Homo sapiens: one gene and its partners. The protein of the gene in region 4 interacts with the protein of the main gene of each other region in a biochemical or structural test. Each region holds a gene or a part of one and is shown on either strand. Other genes may lie near its edges.

Region 1 (3,507 bases), on a different chromosome or scaffold from region 4:
CCACCAGGTTTGCCCTGCAGAGACCCCCCAGGGTAGGGGTTAGCTACCTAGGGAGACTCCATCTGGCCGTTTGCTATGTGGCCGTGGTGCATCGGCCCCCAGGAGGACACAGACTGGATTCCTGCACTTGAGGGGTTCATGGTGTAGAAGGAAAGGATCCATGCTGTGTACCCCCATAGACACACCAATGACCAGAATCCAGGGCGGCTCCCCGGGAACTGAGGACGCTGCCTTGATCCTGTCTCAACAAGTCTAGCAGACCTCAGGACCTCAAGGATAAGCTGCAGCTCAAAGGACCCAGGAAGCCTCCGTCTTTTTCTTTTCTTTTTCTTTTTTTTTTGAGACGGAGTCTCCCTCTGTTGCTCAGGCTGGAATGCAGTGGCGCGATCTCGGCTCCCTGCAACCTTGGCCTCCCGGGTTCAAGAGATTCTCCTGCCTCAGCCTCCCAAGTAGCTGAGATTACAGGCTCCCGCCACCATGCCCGGCTAATTTTTGTATTTTCAGTAGAGACAGGGTTTCGCCATGTTGGTCAGGCTGGTCTCCAACTCCTGACATTGAGTGATCCGCCTGCCTCAGCCTCTCAAAGTGCTGGGATTATAGGCGTGAGCCATTGCACGCGGCCGGGAGACCTCCTTCCTAACGCACGAGCTCCGGACCATGTCGGGAGGAGACGAGGAAGCTGGGATCGGGTGAACGGAGCCCGGGCCAAGATGTCTGTCTTTGCAGGAGATAGAGGAACAAGCGTTCTGAGCAGCCTCAGAGCACAGAATGAGAACCAAGAGTAGAGGGCAGAAGGCTCAGCACAAAAGCTGCATCAGGTAGGCACGGTGGTGCACGTTTGCAGTCCCAGCTACTTGGGAGGCTGAGACACGAGAACTGCTTGAACCCGGGAGGGGGAGATTGCAGTGAACTGAGATCTTGCCACTGCACTCCAGCCTGGGCAGCAGAGGGAGGCTCTGTCTCAAAACAAAACAAACCAAAAAACAAAAAAAACAAAAAATAAGCATGACCAGCCTGGGCAACAAAGTGAGACCTATAGCCGAGCACAGTGGCTCATGCCTGTAGTTCTAGTTACTCAGGAGGCTGAGCCCAGGAGGTCGAGACTGCAGTGAGCCATGATCGTGACAATGTACTCCAGCCTGGGTGACAGAGCAAGACCTTGTTTCTACACAATAAAAAATTTCTAACAATTTAAACAAGCAAGTACATTGCACTTTATTGGGTGATTCAAGGAATCTTCAGAGGAAATTTCGACAGTAAGCTATTTTCACAAATGCCTTGACTCAGAACCAGATCCTGGAGTAACAGACAACTAAGCGCAATGCACACAGGAACCCATTGCTGTGCACAAGCAATGGAATGTAAACCATGCGCACAAATTAAAATCTTCTAGTACCCATGTTTAAAAAGAACAGGTGAACTCACTTCATTTATTTAGAGACAGGGTCCTGCTCTACCTCCCAAGCTGGGGTGCAGCGGCACGATTACAGCTCACTGCAGCCTCCAACTCCTGTCCTCAAGTGATCCTCCCACCTCAGCCTTCCTAGTAGCTAGGATCACAGGTGTGAGCCATCATGTCTGGCTCTTTTTAATTAATTAATTTTTATTATTATTATTATTTTCTGAGACAAAGTCTCATTCTGTCGCCCAGGCTGGAGTACAGTGGTGTGATCTTGGCTCACTGCAACCTCCACCTCACGGGTTCAAGCAATTCTCCTGCCTCAGCCTCCGAAGTAGCTGGAATTACAAGCACCCGCCACCACGCCCAGCTAATTTTTGTATTTTTAGTAGAGACAAGGTTTCGCCATGTTGGTCAGGCTGCTCTTGAATTCCTGGGTTCAAGCCACCTGCCCACCTTGGCCTCCCAAAGTGCTGGGATTACAGACATAAGCCACTGCACCTGGCTGAAATTAATTTTAATAACACATTTGATTTAACCCATCAAAAATGTTATCATTTTCAACGTACAACCAGTATGAAAAATGAATGAATGTTTCACACTGTTTCCGTCTTAAGCCTTTGAAATCTACAATGGCATTATTGCGCCTATGCTCTCGTGGGTTTGGGCAATTCTTGTTTTATGTGTTGCCTGTAGCCAGGGGCTACTCAACCAGGCAGTGCAGCTTTAAATGGCTCTCTGGAAGAACAGGCCACCTCCAGAGGTCCCAATTCAGGAAGGAGCTAAAGCCAAGGTGGACAGCCAGAGAGGGGACTGAAGCAGGGAATGAAGGCGTGGACTGCTCCTTCCATCTGGAAATTTCCAATCCCAAAGTTCGACCACTGTTCGCCTACAGCTGGAAGTGGCGTAAGCCACGGGGCACACAGGCCAGAACCGAGGCGATGGCGCTGGAGCTGGTGCTGCAAAGAGCTCGCTGGAAGGCAGGGGCCTGGGCACCGCTTCCTGGGCTGGACAAACACCATCTCATTCCATTCTCACCATCGTCCCCGGAGGCCCAGGCAGGAGGGAACAGACTCACAGGGGTGGGGGAACCTGCCCGAGGTAACAACACCTGCCTGAGGTCAGGACAACCCCTGCTCATCTTAGTGTCCCCCATGAGGGGAAACAGGGCCCTAGTAGGTGCTCACTGAGGAGCTGCTGAACAAGGACCCAGAAGAAGCAGAAATGGCGAGACCCTGGGAGTGGGACAGAAGGTAAGGAGGGGAACATGAATGAATGAATGAATAACATCAATGAATAAATGAATATTTATTTTTTTTGAGACAGTCTTGCTCTGTCGCCCAGGCTGGAGTGCACTGGCACGATCTCAGCTCACTGCAACCTCTGCCTCCTGGGTCCAAGCGATTCTCCTGCCTCAGCCTCCTGAGTAGCTGGGATTACAGGTGTGCATCACCGCGCTCAGCTAATTTTTTTGGCATTTTTAATAGAGACGGGGTTTTGCCATGTTGGCCAGGTTGGTCTTGAACTCTGGGCCTCAAGTAATCCACCCACCTTGGCCTCCCAAAGGGCTGGGATTACAGGCGTGAGCCACCACACCCAGCCATGAATGAACACTTCTGATGGCAGACTTGGAAGGTCTCAAGTACTGCTCAAAACATTGAAAATGCATTCTGGAGTCAGCTGACTAATCCATCTTAAATTTACTGGCAACCCAACTGTGGTTATTAAACAAAACAAAACAAAACCTTGGCGTCCCTACAGCCAGCTTCCTCTCCTGGGGGAATCCTTCAAGAGATGGGAATCAAACCCCACACGGAAGAGAAATGTGAAGGGCGAGTTCTGTGCAGAGAATGAGGAACGGGTCCCCGTGTCTGGCTGTGCCCGTGTTGACTTGCACACATTGGCATCAAGAGTCTTCATCTGGGTCACAGAAGGCCGACCCCCAAGCGGGAGAGGCCACCAGACATGCCACAGTCCCTGACACCTGGTTCTTGAGGGGTCACACCGCAGGCACGGCACCCGGACCCCAGCCAAGGGCCCCGGGGATCGCCCTGCCCTGCCTCGGCCTGCAGAACGGGAGTGCAGAGATCACCCTGGCATGACCCCAC
Region 2 (3,678 bases), on a different chromosome or scaffold from region 4:
AATCTCTGGGGCCACGAGTTCCGCTCGCACCACGATTACTACATCATTGGTACTGCTGGGCAGAGGGCACGATTGAGTGGGGGGCTCCTGATACTGAGCAGAGAGGGAGGGGGACCCCTGCAGCCAAGAGGGAGATCCCAGTGCCCTCAGGCAGTGTTCACACCAGGGTGTGGGGCCAGAATCAGGGCTAGATTCTGGAGTGCCAACCTCTTCCTCTGGCTTTTCTCTCCCAGCCACATCGGATGGGACCCGGGAGGGCCTGGAGAGCCTGCAGGGAGGTGTGTGCCTAACCAGAGGCATGAAGGTGCTTCTCCGAGTGGGACAAAGTGAGTGGGGCTGGGGGACACCTCCTGGGCACGAAGGGACGTTGGGGCAGTACGATCATGGTTGGGGCAGTTGTCTCAGCCCCTCTCTGGGTCTTCCTCATCTCCAGGTCCCCGAGGAGGGGCTGTCCCCCGAAAACCTGTGTCTGAAATGCCCATGGAAAGAGACCGAGGGGCAGCCCACAGCCTGGAGCCTGGGAAGGAGAACCTGCCAGGTAGGAACCAGGGGCTAGGCCCCTGCCTTCCCCAGCTTCCTCTGCTCTCAGACCCCAGCTGCCCTGCCGTCACCCTCCCTCCCTCTTCAGTTTTGGGGGCGGTGATACAGGAAAGAGGAGAAGAGAGGATGGGAGGGTGGGAGGGGAATGGAAACCAAATGAGGAAAAGACTCAATTAGAACTAATTAGCCAAGTCAGTGCTTCAATCAGTGCTGTCAGAGAAGTGGGGAGGACTCCGTGGCAGGAAGCTGAAGGGCTGGACACCTGGATTCTGAGCAGAGTTCGGAGGGGGAGGAGAGATGGGGTCCCCAAGGGGCCTGGGCGCTACAAGGGAAGCCCATGGGGACCCCCAGGGTTGGGTGTCCAGGTGCCCAGGTGGCTCCTTCAGTCCCTCCCCCTCTTTCCTCCTTCACCCCTTCCCTGCCAGGTGACCCCACCAGCAATGCAACCTCCCGGGGTGCTGAAGGCCCCCTGCCCCCTCCCAGCATGCCTGCAGTGGCTGGGGCAGCAGGGGGGCTGGCGCTGCTCTTGCTGGGCGTGGCAGGGGCTGGGGGTGCCATGTGTTGGCGGAGACGGCGGGCCAAGCCTTCGGAGAGTCGCCACCCTGGTCCTGGCTCCTTCGGGAGGGGAGGGTCTCTGGGCCTGGGGGGTGGAGGTGGGATGGGACCTCGGGAGGCTGAGCCTGGGGAGCTAGGGATAGCTCTGCGGGGTGGCGGGGCTGCAGATCCCCCCTTCTGCCCCCACTATGAGAAGGTGAGTGGTGACTATGGGCATCCTGTGTATATCGTGCAGGATGGGCCCCCCCAGAGCCCTCCAAACATCTACTACAAGGTATGAGGGCTCCTCTCACGTGGCTATCCTGAATCCAGCCCTTCTTGGGGTGCTCCTCCAGTTTAATTCCTGGTTTGAGGGACACCTCTAACATCTCGGCCCCCTGTGCCCCCCCAGCCCCTTCACTCCTCCCGGCTGCTGTCCTCGTCTCCACTTTTAGGATTCCTTAGGATTCCCACTGCCCCACTTCCTGCCCTCCCGTTTGGCCATGGGTGCCCCCCTCTGTCTCAGTGTCCCTGGATCCTTTTTCCTTGGGGAGGGGCACAGGCTCAGCCTCCTCTCTGACCATGACCCAGGCATCCTTGTCCCCCTCACCCACCCAGAGCTAGGGGCGGGAACAGCCCACCTTTTGGTTGGCACCGCCTTCTTTCTGCCTCTCACTGGTTTTCTCTTCTCTATCTCTTATTCTTTCCCTCTCTTCCGTCTCTAGGTCTGTTCTTCTTCCCTAGCATCCTCCTCCCCACATCTCCTTTCACCCTCTTGGCTTCTTATCCTGTGCCTCTCCCATCTCCTGGGTGGGGGCATCAAAGCATTTCTCCCCTTAGCTTTCAGCCCCCCTTCTGACCTCTCATACCAACCACTCCCCTCAGTCTGCCAAAAATGGGGGCCTTATGGGGAAGGCTCTGACACTCCACCCCAGCTCAGGCCATGGGCAGCAGGGCTCCATTCTCTGGCCTGGCCCAGGCCTCTACATACTTACTCCAGCCATTTGGGGTGGTTGGGTCATGACAGCTACCATGAGAAGAAGTGTCCCGTTTTGTCCAGTGGCCAATAGCAAGATATGAACCGGTCGGGACATGTATGGACTTGGTCTGATGCTGAATGGGCCACTTGGGACCGGAAGTGACTTGCTCCAGACAAGAGGTGACCAGGCCCGGACAGAAATGGCCTGGGAAGTAGCAGAAGCAGTGCAGCAGGAACTGGAAGTGCCTTCATCCAGGACAGGAAGTAGCACTTCTGAAACAGGAAGTGGTCTGGCTGGAACTCCAAGTGGCTTAGTCTGGGGGATCAGGAGGTGGGAGGTGGATGGTTCTTATTCTGTGGAGAAGAAGGGCGGGAAGAACTTCCTTTCAGGAGGAAGCTGGAACTTACTGACTGTAAGAGGTTAGAGGTGGACCGAGAAGGACTTTTCCCAGTCTTCAGTGGCACTTCCCAAGATCTCCCTTCCCTTGTGCTCTGTGCTGATTTTAGGACAGCTAAGATGACTGCCATGTGCTGTGGCAGGCCTAATTTGTCTTGTTCTTTCCTTTCCATATCCCAGTATAATCTCTGTTAATCAACAGGACTACCCCAAGAACCCATGTGCTCTCCCGAGTAACCCAGATGGCTGTCTTGTTCATTCCATCCTACATTTCTGACTCCTTTCAGACTCAACACAGTTCCCTTCTTAGTGACCAAAATGGTGGCCTACTGGCTGGTCTAGCTGACAGTGGTACTTAGCAAAGGCCACTGTTTCCATAGTGACCAGCTGATACCTCTTCCTGCCCTCTAGTGTGCAATTGGGTGTTGCCTCAGTTTCCTCCCAGCTCAGTTTTATTAGATCAAAGCTGTTGTTGGGCACCAGGTTGGCCACCTCAATCACCAGCCAAGATGGTTGCTTTGTCCACCAGAGGTCAAGTTCACCTCTCTGGTGCTGTAGTTCCCAGCTCCTTCCTGATTTTTCTAATCGCTCCTTCTGGGGAACAGGAAGTTGATATTGCCATGGTGGCGGGGTATGCCGTCACCTCAGTAGTTTTACTGTAAAAGGGAAATTTGAACAACAAAAACCAAAAAAAATAAAAATAAAAAACTTCAAAAGTTGACAAGAAGGCTGGAGAATGACTGGACTTGAATTGGGACAAAGGCTTGGTTAGAATGGCTTTCAGCTGAGGGTTGGATTGCATGAAACCAACCAAGGGGGGTGGGTAGGGATAGGGCTAGTTTGGAGTGGTGAGGTTGGCAGTGCTTGGGGAGGCGAAAATGGGCTGGGCGAGAAGGCAGAGGAAGGTGTCACCTCTAGGGGAGGGAGAGAGTAATGCAGGCAGGAGTGGGGTCGCCAATTCATCCATGGGGACAGTCTGAGTGTCTTGCTAAGCCAAAGCACCAGAGACAGGGTAAGACGCAATTAGGATCAAAGTGGTAAAAACATGTTCACATGTTAAAGTCTATTCCCTACCATCCCTACCCAAGGCACTTGAGAAGTTTTGCTGTTGGGGACTCATGGGGAGAAGGGATGTGGCTGATCAGAAGGAAGTAGGAAGGACTCAGGGAGGGACCCAGGCATCAAGCTGCGTGTGCCCTGGCTCCCTGTATACCCATAACCGAGGCTC
Region 3 (3,860 bases), about 46 Mb from region 4:
TGGTTTCTTCCTCATTTGCAGCTTGTTGATACTTGTTCCTTTTTATTTATTAACATCCCAATCAATTTGCAGCTGCCATCATTACATAAATATTTTTCTGTTATAAAAAGAAGTGTGATCTGTTTTTTTAGTGATTTCCTTTGTTTGGGAATAGAGATTGGAAGCACATACTCAGACCTGTTTTGTTAACTAGAATTCTTTAAAAGCTGATGCCAAACATCTTTACAGAGGAACTGTAGTTCACATCCACCTGTCTGACATTGTCCCCTAAAAACAAGTGCAGTGTGGCAGCTGCTGAATCTGTCTGTTCAGTTTGTCAAGGAGGATAATTATGCTTGGGAGAGATCTGAAAAGAAGGTGAATATTTTGCACTTTTGATACTCTTAGGAACAAATAACTTATTTGGCAAATTGTTTCTTTTTTATGTTTTGGGTGTTGTTTTTGTTTTTTGACTTTTTTTGTATTGTGAACAGGCACTGAAGCTGATGTTATTTTAAGATTACAGAATGGAAAAAGAAATAAACTATTTTAATGTCTGATAATTATGGGGTAGCCCTTGCATTGCAAGATGATGATTTGATTATGGACACATTATCAACAGAATTGAATTTGCATGGAACTCAAGACACGCTTAAGATCACCACAGCATAACTGCAGATTTCAGGAATTACAGTCATAGAGGGTACATCAACTTGAAGAGTAGATTGAGTCTTACAGGAAGTGAGTTACAATAAGTAACATTAAGAGCCCAGCTGCCAGCCTGGCCAACATGGTGAAACCCCGTCTCTACTAAAAATACAAAAATTAGCCGGGCGTGGTGACGCATGACTGTAATTCTAGCTACTCAGGAGGCTGAGGCAGCAGAATTGCTTGAACCCAGGAGGCGGAGATTGCAGTGAGCTAAGATCGGGCCACTGCACTCCAGCCTGGGGGACAGAGCGAGACTCCATCTCAGAAAAAAAAAAAAAAAAAAAAGCCCAGCTGACATTTTCCAGTTTTGTTTTGTTTTCTGGGGTTTTTTTGTTTTGTTTTGTTTTGTTTTGTTTTTTAGTAGAGACGGGGTTTCACCATGTTGGCCAGGCTGGTCTTGAACTCCTGACCTCAGGTGATCCTCCCGCCTAGGCCTGGGATTACAGGCGTGAGCCACTGGGTCCGGCCTGCTTTTTTTTTTTTTTTTTTTTTTTTGGAGACGGAGTCTCACTCTGTCACCCAGGCTGGAGTGTAGTGGCATGACCTCAGCTCACTGCAACCTCCACCTCCCGGGTTCAAGCAATGCCCCTGCCTCAGCTTCCTGAGTAGCTGGGACTATAGGCACGCGCCACCACGCCCAGCTAACTTCTGTATTTTCAGTAGAGATGGGTTTTCACCATGTTGGCCAGGCTGGTCTCGAACTCCTGACCTCAAGTGATCTGCCCACCTCCGCCCCCCAAAGTGCTGGGATTACAGGCATGAGCCACCGTGTCCAGCCTTAGGTTTTCTAGTTTAGAAGACATTTTGTGTACCCTTCTAGGCCTCTGAGCAAGAAGTTTCTTCATTAGGCTCTCCGTGTTACTTTATACTTTTTACTTACGTTCACAGTGGTCCTAAAACCAAGATGCAGCCCTAAGCACCTCATAGGAGAAGCTGTATTTTTTTTTTTTTTTTTTGAGATGGAGTCTTGCTCTGGCACCCAGGCTGGAGTGCAGTGGTGCGATCTCAGCTCACTGCAGCGTCCGAGGAGGAGCTGTAGTTTAAAGGAAGATACTCAATACTCTAGGAAGCAGATCATCAAAATTTTAAAAAGCGGCTGGGTGCGGTGGCTCATGCCTGTAATCCCAGCACTTTAAGGAGGCTGAGGCGGGCGGATCACCTTAGGTCAGGAGTTCAAGACCAGCCTGGCCAATGTGGTGAAACCCTGTCTCTACTAAAAATACAAAAATTAGCCAGGCGTGGTGGCAGGCACCTGTAATCCCAGGTACTCAGGAGGCTGAGGCAGGAGAATCGATTGAACTCGGGAGGCGGAGGTTGCAATGAACCGAGATCATGCCATTGCACTCCAGCCTGGGTGACAAGCAAAACTCTATCTCAAAAAAAAAAATGTTTAAAAGGAAGATATAGAAATATGGAATGCTTATACAGTATTATTTCATAGTTTTTTTAAATGTCATGTTTCTAATGTTTAGATAATCTTGAAAGAAATTCTCCTCACTTCCCCTTTATCCTCCATCTTTCATCAAAGGAAAAAAAATCAAAGCAGTACAAGTACTCCTTTTTTTTTCCCCCAATTAATCCAAGTTCCTTAGAAATGTTGCTGTTTGGGTGAGAATTCTACTGATTATCCCGACTTCACAGCCAGCAATGACACTTTCAGCAGAAAGTTTTCTTGGCATAAACTCTTTAGTTCTCAGACTGCTTACTCATAAGTTCTTCTTGAGAACTTGTCAGCGACGCAATCTGTTTTGTCTTGAAGAGCACAAGACTCAGACGGTTGTCACTTTGGGGAGAGCACATAGCATCTCAAACAGCAGGTTAGCCGCCAGCAGGGCTGTGTTCCCTAAGAAAAAGTAAAACCTCACATGAATACCCTGCAGACGACCCGCTGAGCCAAGCCTTGGGACTCCTCAGCTTTCTCTTCCCCTTGTGCCTCCTTTTCCAGAGCCCTGTCTTGTGCACCCCTCTAGGGTGCCCGCCAGCTGTGAACACGCTTGCCCAGGCTCTCTGCCTCCATCAAGCATCATTTGGGAATCATATTTTAAAATTCAGAAAGTTCTTTGTTTACTCTGAGAACAGATTTTTCCCAAAGGAGAACCTATAATAATGATGTGTACTGTATTATCTATCCTCTGAGGTCGATAGGCCTAATTCCATAAGTTTGTCTACATTAAAATTATTGGGATGGCGTCTGCTTTGAAGATCTTAACCAGCTAAGTTCCTATTTGATAAATATTAACATATATTATTTATGCTTTAGAATTCACTTTGCAATGAAACATCAAAGGAGACGGGGATTGGGCCACCCTGTCACTAGACTACAGGCTGGTTTCTTTCTCTTCTGCTGATTGGTGGGCAAGCTAATGATACTTAACTACCTCCTGGGGGTTTTGTTAGGGTTAATGAGCTCATGTTTGTAAGGTGTGCAGTAATAGGTGTGTTTTCTTCACCATTGGACATGCTCAGCTGCTTCCCCAAGTCATATAAGGGACTCATCTTTTTTTTTTTTTTTTTGAGATGGAGTCTCGCTCTGTCACCCAGGCTGGAGTGCAGTGGCGCAATCTCAGCTCACTGCAACCTCCGCCTCCTAGGTTCTAAGCGATTCTCCTGCCTTAGCCTCCTGAGTACCTGGGATTACAGGTGTGTGCCACCACACCTGGCTAATTTTTATATCTTTAGAGAGATGGGGTTTCGCCATGTTGGCCAAATTGGTCTTGAACTCCTGACCTCAGGTGAGCTGCCCACCTTGGCCTCCCAAAGTGCTGGGATTACAGGCTTGGGCCACCATGCCTGGCCCCATTTTCTACTTATTAACTAGCTTCGTGTAATTTAAGCTACCGGCTGCCCATGGATCTCAGTCTCTTTGCTTACTCACCAGAAAGATCATACGGTGGTGAAACTTCGACAAGATCACAGCCCATCACGTTCAGGCCTTGACAACCCCTGATGATCTCCAGAGCCTATTCAAGATCAAGACTGAGTTGTCCACAGTGGTAATCATTTACAGTGAAAAGCACCCAGTAGAGCTTTTCCCAGCCCACGCCACCCTTTGACTTGGAATTGGCTTTCCCTCCATAAACATTTGTTGACTGCCAGGCACACTGGCAGGCCTCCCAGAGAAACAGATAATGCGTACACAGTCCCTGCTCCTCAGGGCTGCATGGTGTGGT
Region 4 (5,082 bases):
GTCTCCCTACATTGCCCAGGCTGGTCTTGAACTCCTGGCTTCAAGCAATCCTCCTGCCTCTGCCTCCCAAAGATTATAGATATAAGCTACCACATTCAAACTTCATTTCATTTTTAATGGCACTTGAAGGTCGAGGTGAACATACATAAAACTAACATGTCCAAAATTTTAATTGTTTATTATTTAATTTTTAATAGGTATTAGGGGCTACAACCAGATTATCCTTCCAAATGTTTTCTAGATTTTCCAAATTACATTAGTTCTAATTTCCATTAATTATGGGGTGTCACCCAGGCTGGAGTACAGTGGCGCAATCTCGGCTCACTGCAACCTCCGCCTCTGGGGTTCAAGCGATTCTCCTGCCTCAGCCTCCCAACTATCTGGGATTACAGGTGCCTGCCACCACGCCCGGCTAATTTTTCTATTTTTAGTAGAGACAGGGTTTTGCCATGTTGGTCGGGCTAGTCTCAAACTCCTGACCTCTAGTGATCCACCCTCCTCGGCCTCAGAAAGTGATGCAATTACAGGTGTGAACCACTGCGCTTGGCCAAAAATCTTATTTTAACAAGAATAGAGATGTGTTCAATTAGTCATTGTCTAAAAACTCTCCTTAGCAAGACCTTATCTCAAAAAATAAATGTTAATTTTTTTTTAAAAAGCTCTCCTTACCACATACATGGATACTTTCCTTATGTAATTTTAAGTCAATAAATTTTCAACACACAGGTTAGAAAATGGTGTCAGTTTCTCCTAACAATATAAAAATAGAAGCAAGCAAAATACATACTAATACATTTTACAGCAAAAAGAATGAGTATAAGCTCCTTTGTAAAACTAAAACAGGAGAAATGAAGCTAAATATTTCCATGAGAAGATACAACTTTACCTGAGCCATCTGTTGAATGACTGAGTTAAAGTCTTCATTTCCCAACTTCGGGGTCCACGGAAATAACCCAGATACAGTCGAGTTATTAGAGGGCCTGTGGACATTTCCATTAGTGATGGAACCATCTGTGAACACTAACAAACCTTTCCTAGAAAAATCAAAGTTGGCTGAACAATCTGAGGGTATATGGTTGAGCTGTTGGAGAGAAAAAAAAAGAATCAACAGAAATCTATAGAAAAATTGTTTCTATTTATTAAATATATTTTGACCATTACATAGATACTTTGCACATTAAATATATACATGGAAAAGAAATAAGGTAAAGATAGATCAAATCTGTGTATTCACAAGGCTAAAAATTTTTTAAATTTAGTATTACACAAAATGTTTAATAGCTTAAAATTTGTTCTTATTTCCTGCCTTCTACCACTAGTCCAAGTTAACAGCATGTACACTGACATCTTTTTACACTTCACATATACAGATGCATCCAGTCACATAACAGTGTAAGGCACTAAACCTTTTTCCATTTATCTGTACAATTCCACGTGGGGAGCAACAAAAGATCCACAGGTAGTATATAATGATAATAACTGTACTTATTGAGTGCTTGCTATGAGTAAGTACTATACCAGCATGATTGCAGGTATTATCATTTAATTCTTACAACAATCTAATGAGATATCATTATCCCATTTTGTGAGCCTAAAAACCGAGGCACACAGGGGTTAAGTAACTTACTCAAGATTAGCAGTGAGTCACGGAGCCACTTAAACATTGATAGAAAGAGGAGAATCATGTAATTATGGTGGACATAATTTAAAATATCATTGGCTGATACAACTGCCAAAACAGTAGAATAAAGGTAACATTAAGAATAAATGTCAGTGGTGAAACCCCATCGCTATCAAAAATACAAAAATTAGCCGGGCATGGTGGTACACACTTGTAATTCCAAGGTACTTGGGAGGCTGAGGCAAGAGAATTGCTTGAATCCCGCAGGTGGAGGCTACAGTGAGCCGAGATTGCACCACTGCACTCAGCCTGGATGACAGAGCAAGACTCTGTCTCCAAAAAAAAAAACAGAATAAATGTTAGGCCGGGTGTGATGGCTCACACCTGTAATCCCAGCACTTTGGGAGATCAAGGTGGGAGGACTGCTTCAGGGCCAGGAGTTCAAGACCAGCCTGGGCAACATAGTGAGACTCTTGTCTCAACAAAAAATACAAAAATTAGCTGGGCATGGTGTCACATGCCTGTAGGCCCAGCTACTTGGGAGGATGAAGTGGGAGGATTGCTTGAGCCCAGGAGGTTGAGGCTACAATGATCCATAATCACACCACTGTACTCTAGCCCAGGCAAATACTCTGCCTCAAAAAAAAAAAAAAAAAAAAAAAAAAAAAAAAATGAATGTCAATAAAACCTCAAAGAAAAAATAAAAAACCCCTGGCTACAGGGATTATACAGTCCAATGCATAAAATATGACTGTGTACATAACAACTCCAAACTATACAAATATAAAGAATTGTTATTAGGATAGGGTAGTTACAGCCACTCTTAGTCCAACAAGTGTGATAGATTTCTGCTGATCTTTGCCAATTTCAGTTGCTACCAACAGCATTCACTATTGTGATATTCTGTGACCAAGAGAAATACAGAAAGCTAAACATCAATATAGGCAGTGCTAAAATTAGGGTATAAATTCTGGTCTAAAGAAAGCAATTCACAGAAAGACACATGTAGAATTTAATCCTTAATTGGCTATAAACAAATCACTCACAAAATACTTAATGGGCAAGCATTTTAGTTTATCAGCAAAAACCATTTTTTCCCAAATTTTGTAAATTTTCACTTAACTGTGCTAAATTAGCTCCAATTATGTTTTAAATTCTGCCCAAATTTCATCTATGGTATAGCTACTATTCAAGTTCAGCTTCCAGAATAGGTGATTTAAAAGTAATTTGCCATCCCTGACCCCAAAACAAAGAATCCAAGAGGACAGTTAAAACAATTAATTTCTGGTTCAATCTCAGCACCAAAAAAAAAAAAAAATCCCACAACTGCTAATTTGCACCCCTCTAAGAAGAGGTGATATGTGTCCCTTATTCAATAATGATGTATTAGAGCCTGAAGAATCCAGATAGTGTGGTAAATGAGTAGAAGAAACATAACTATATATTTAAATACCAGGTATTCTGCTTCCAAGGAACTTCTAATCAGAATACGCATGAAAGACAACAAATATTTGATAATTAAGAGAAGTGTGACTATTGTGCTATAAGGGCATGATCACTTCTTGTTAGATAAAAGACTTCGGCCGGGCGAGGTGGCTCACGCCTATAATCCCAGCACTTTGGGAGGCTGAGGCAGGTGGATCACAAGGTCAGGAGATACAGACCATCCTGGCTAACACAGTGAAACCCCGTCTCTACTAAAAAAAATAATAATAATAACACACACACACAAAAAAAAAGACCACACACACACACAAAAAAAGACTTCATAAGGAAAATACGCCTGGGCAAGGTGGCTCATGCCTATAATCCCAGCACTTTGGAAGGCTGAGGTAGGAGGACTGCTTGAGGCCAATAGTTTGAGACCAGCCTGGGCAACATAGGGAGACCCTGCCTCTATAAAATTTTTAAAAATTAGCCCAACTGTGGTGGCACACACCTATCCCAGCTACTCTGGAAGCTGAGGTGGGAACATTGCTTGAGCCTGGGAGGTCAAGGCTGCAGTGAGCTAGGATCACAGCACTGCACTCCCGCCTCAGTGACAGAGAGAAACCTTGTCTCAAAATAAAAAGAAAATATATTTAAGTTAAGCACTATTTTATAGTTTTGAAGATGTTGAGAATTCTCAAAGCATCTGACCTTTACATACTTAAATAAGTACAAAAACCATATTCTAAAACCAAACACAATTTTTTTTTTTTTTTTTGAGACAGGGTCTCAACTCTGCCATCCAGGCTGGAGTGCAGTGGCATGATCATAGCTCACTGCAACCTGGAACTCCTGGGCTCAAGCAGTCCTCCCACCTCAGACTCCTGAGTTGCTGGGACTACCGGTACATGCCACCACATCCAGTTACCAAAGAAAAAATTGATTATTGATATTTCTAAATTATCTATGCCAATGCTACCCACAGGTTATAGGTTACAGGTCCCAATACAGTCTCTTTGCTGAACTGAGTCCTTAAAGATAATTTGTCTTTGTCTATCTCCTCTATCTTTCTTTGATGGTTTGAATATATTAATATAATATATTAATGTAAAACTCTGATGGGTAACTTACTTGACCCTTCAGTTGCTTGATGGACTGCTGAAGTGTGAGTATCTGGTTGAAGAGAGGACTCTTTAGTGTCTCATAAAACATAGATAACTTCTCATTCTGCGACGTGTCACCCTTCTCCTGCAATTTCATTTTCAGGCGATCAAGTACCTGCAGCACCTGCAGTTTATCTTGGGTCAAGATGAATAAGTAGAGTAATAGTTAAGTCCCATTTGAGATTCCATTTTTAAATAATTAATTTAATTATAGAACAATATATCCAGTATACCTGTAGCAGGATTTTCAGGCATTTTGAATTATTCTCTTCAATCACTCTTAAAGACACCTAAAGAAAAAATTTAACAATATAAAAGATGAATTTCAATTGTATATGGCTACAATCCTGTAGAAAAATTAAGGAAAACCTCAAGAACATTCTTTATCAAGGCTCCACTCAGTGAAATTCAAAATTATAACCACAATGAGGTGCCACTACACACCCACTAAGGTAACTAAAATTTAAAAACAGACAACACTAAGTTTCAACGAGGCTGTGAAGTGCCTGGAACTATTATTGTACATTGCTAAGAGAAACGTAAAATATCACAACCACTTCGGAAAATTGGTAGTTTCTTATAAAGTTAAAAATACACTTACTATATGACCCAGCACTTCCACTCACAAATACTTACTCAGTATTCATGAAAATATATGCTCACAAAAACGCCTGCACATGAAAGTTTACAGCATTTTTATTTACAAAAACCCCAAAACTAGAAAAACCCAAGTGTCTAGTAACAGATGAATAAACAAATGGTATATAATATTCAGAAATAAAAAGGAAAAATTACTGATACACACAACAAGGATAAATCTCAAAAATGATATGTGGAAAAAAAGAAACCTGACCCAAAAAAGGCACAAAC

What was found. The genes of interacting proteins can lie anywhere in the genome.
Region 1: the proteins of PATJ (region 4) and MAP2K2 interact in a test that uses a peptide from one of them, tested with the Homo sapiens proteins (one large-scale study listed by IntAct).
Region 2: the proteins of PATJ (region 4) and EFNB3 interact in a test that uses a peptide from one of them, tested with the Homo sapiens proteins (one large-scale study listed by IntAct).
Region 3: the proteins of PATJ (region 4) and AGMAT interact in a test that uses a peptide from one of them, tested with the Homo sapiens proteins (one large-scale study listed by IntAct).

Annotation. Positions count from the first base shown.
Region 1 is NC_000019.10:4,117,616-4,121,122, forward strand, and holds part of MAP2K2 (dual specificity mitogen-activated protein kinase kinase 2), read right to left. Parts: intron 15-3,507; coding exon 1-14. UniProt on the Homo sapiens protein: Catalyzes the concomitant phosphorylation of a threonine and a tyrosine residue in a Thr-Glu-Tyr sequence located in MAP kinases. Activates the ERK1 and ERK2 MAP kinases.
Region 2 is NC_000017.11:7,708,202-7,711,879, forward strand, and holds the end of EFNB3 (ephrin-B3 precursor), read left to right. Parts: coding exon 1-49; intron 50-233; coding exon 234-326; intron 327-433; coding exon 434-538; intron 539-965; coding exon 966-1,375; 3' UTR 1,376-3,171; downstream 3,172-3,678. UniProt on the Homo sapiens protein: Cell surface transmembrane ligand for Eph receptors, a family of receptor tyrosine kinases which are crucial for migration, repulsion and adhesion during neuronal, vascular and epithelial development.
Region 3 is NC_000001.11:15,571,192-15,575,051, forward strand, and holds the end of AGMAT (guanidino acid hydrolase, mitochondrial precursor), read right to left. Parts: intron 3,651-3,860; coding exon 3,566-3,650; intron 2,534-3,565; coding exon 2,460-2,533; 3' UTR 508-2,459; downstream 1-507. UniProt on the Homo sapiens protein: Hydrolyzes linear guanidino acids to form urea and the corresponding amines. Displays specificity for substrates having a negatively charged head group and short chains including taurocyamine, guanidino propanoic and butanoic acids.
Region 4 is NC_000001.11:61,762,278-61,767,359, reverse strand, and holds part of PATJ (inaD-like protein), read right to left. Parts: intron 4,503-5,082; 5' UTR 4,468-4,502; coding exon 4,446-4,467; intron 4,348-4,445; coding exon 4,181-4,347; intron 1,082-4,180; coding exon 887-1,081; intron 1-886.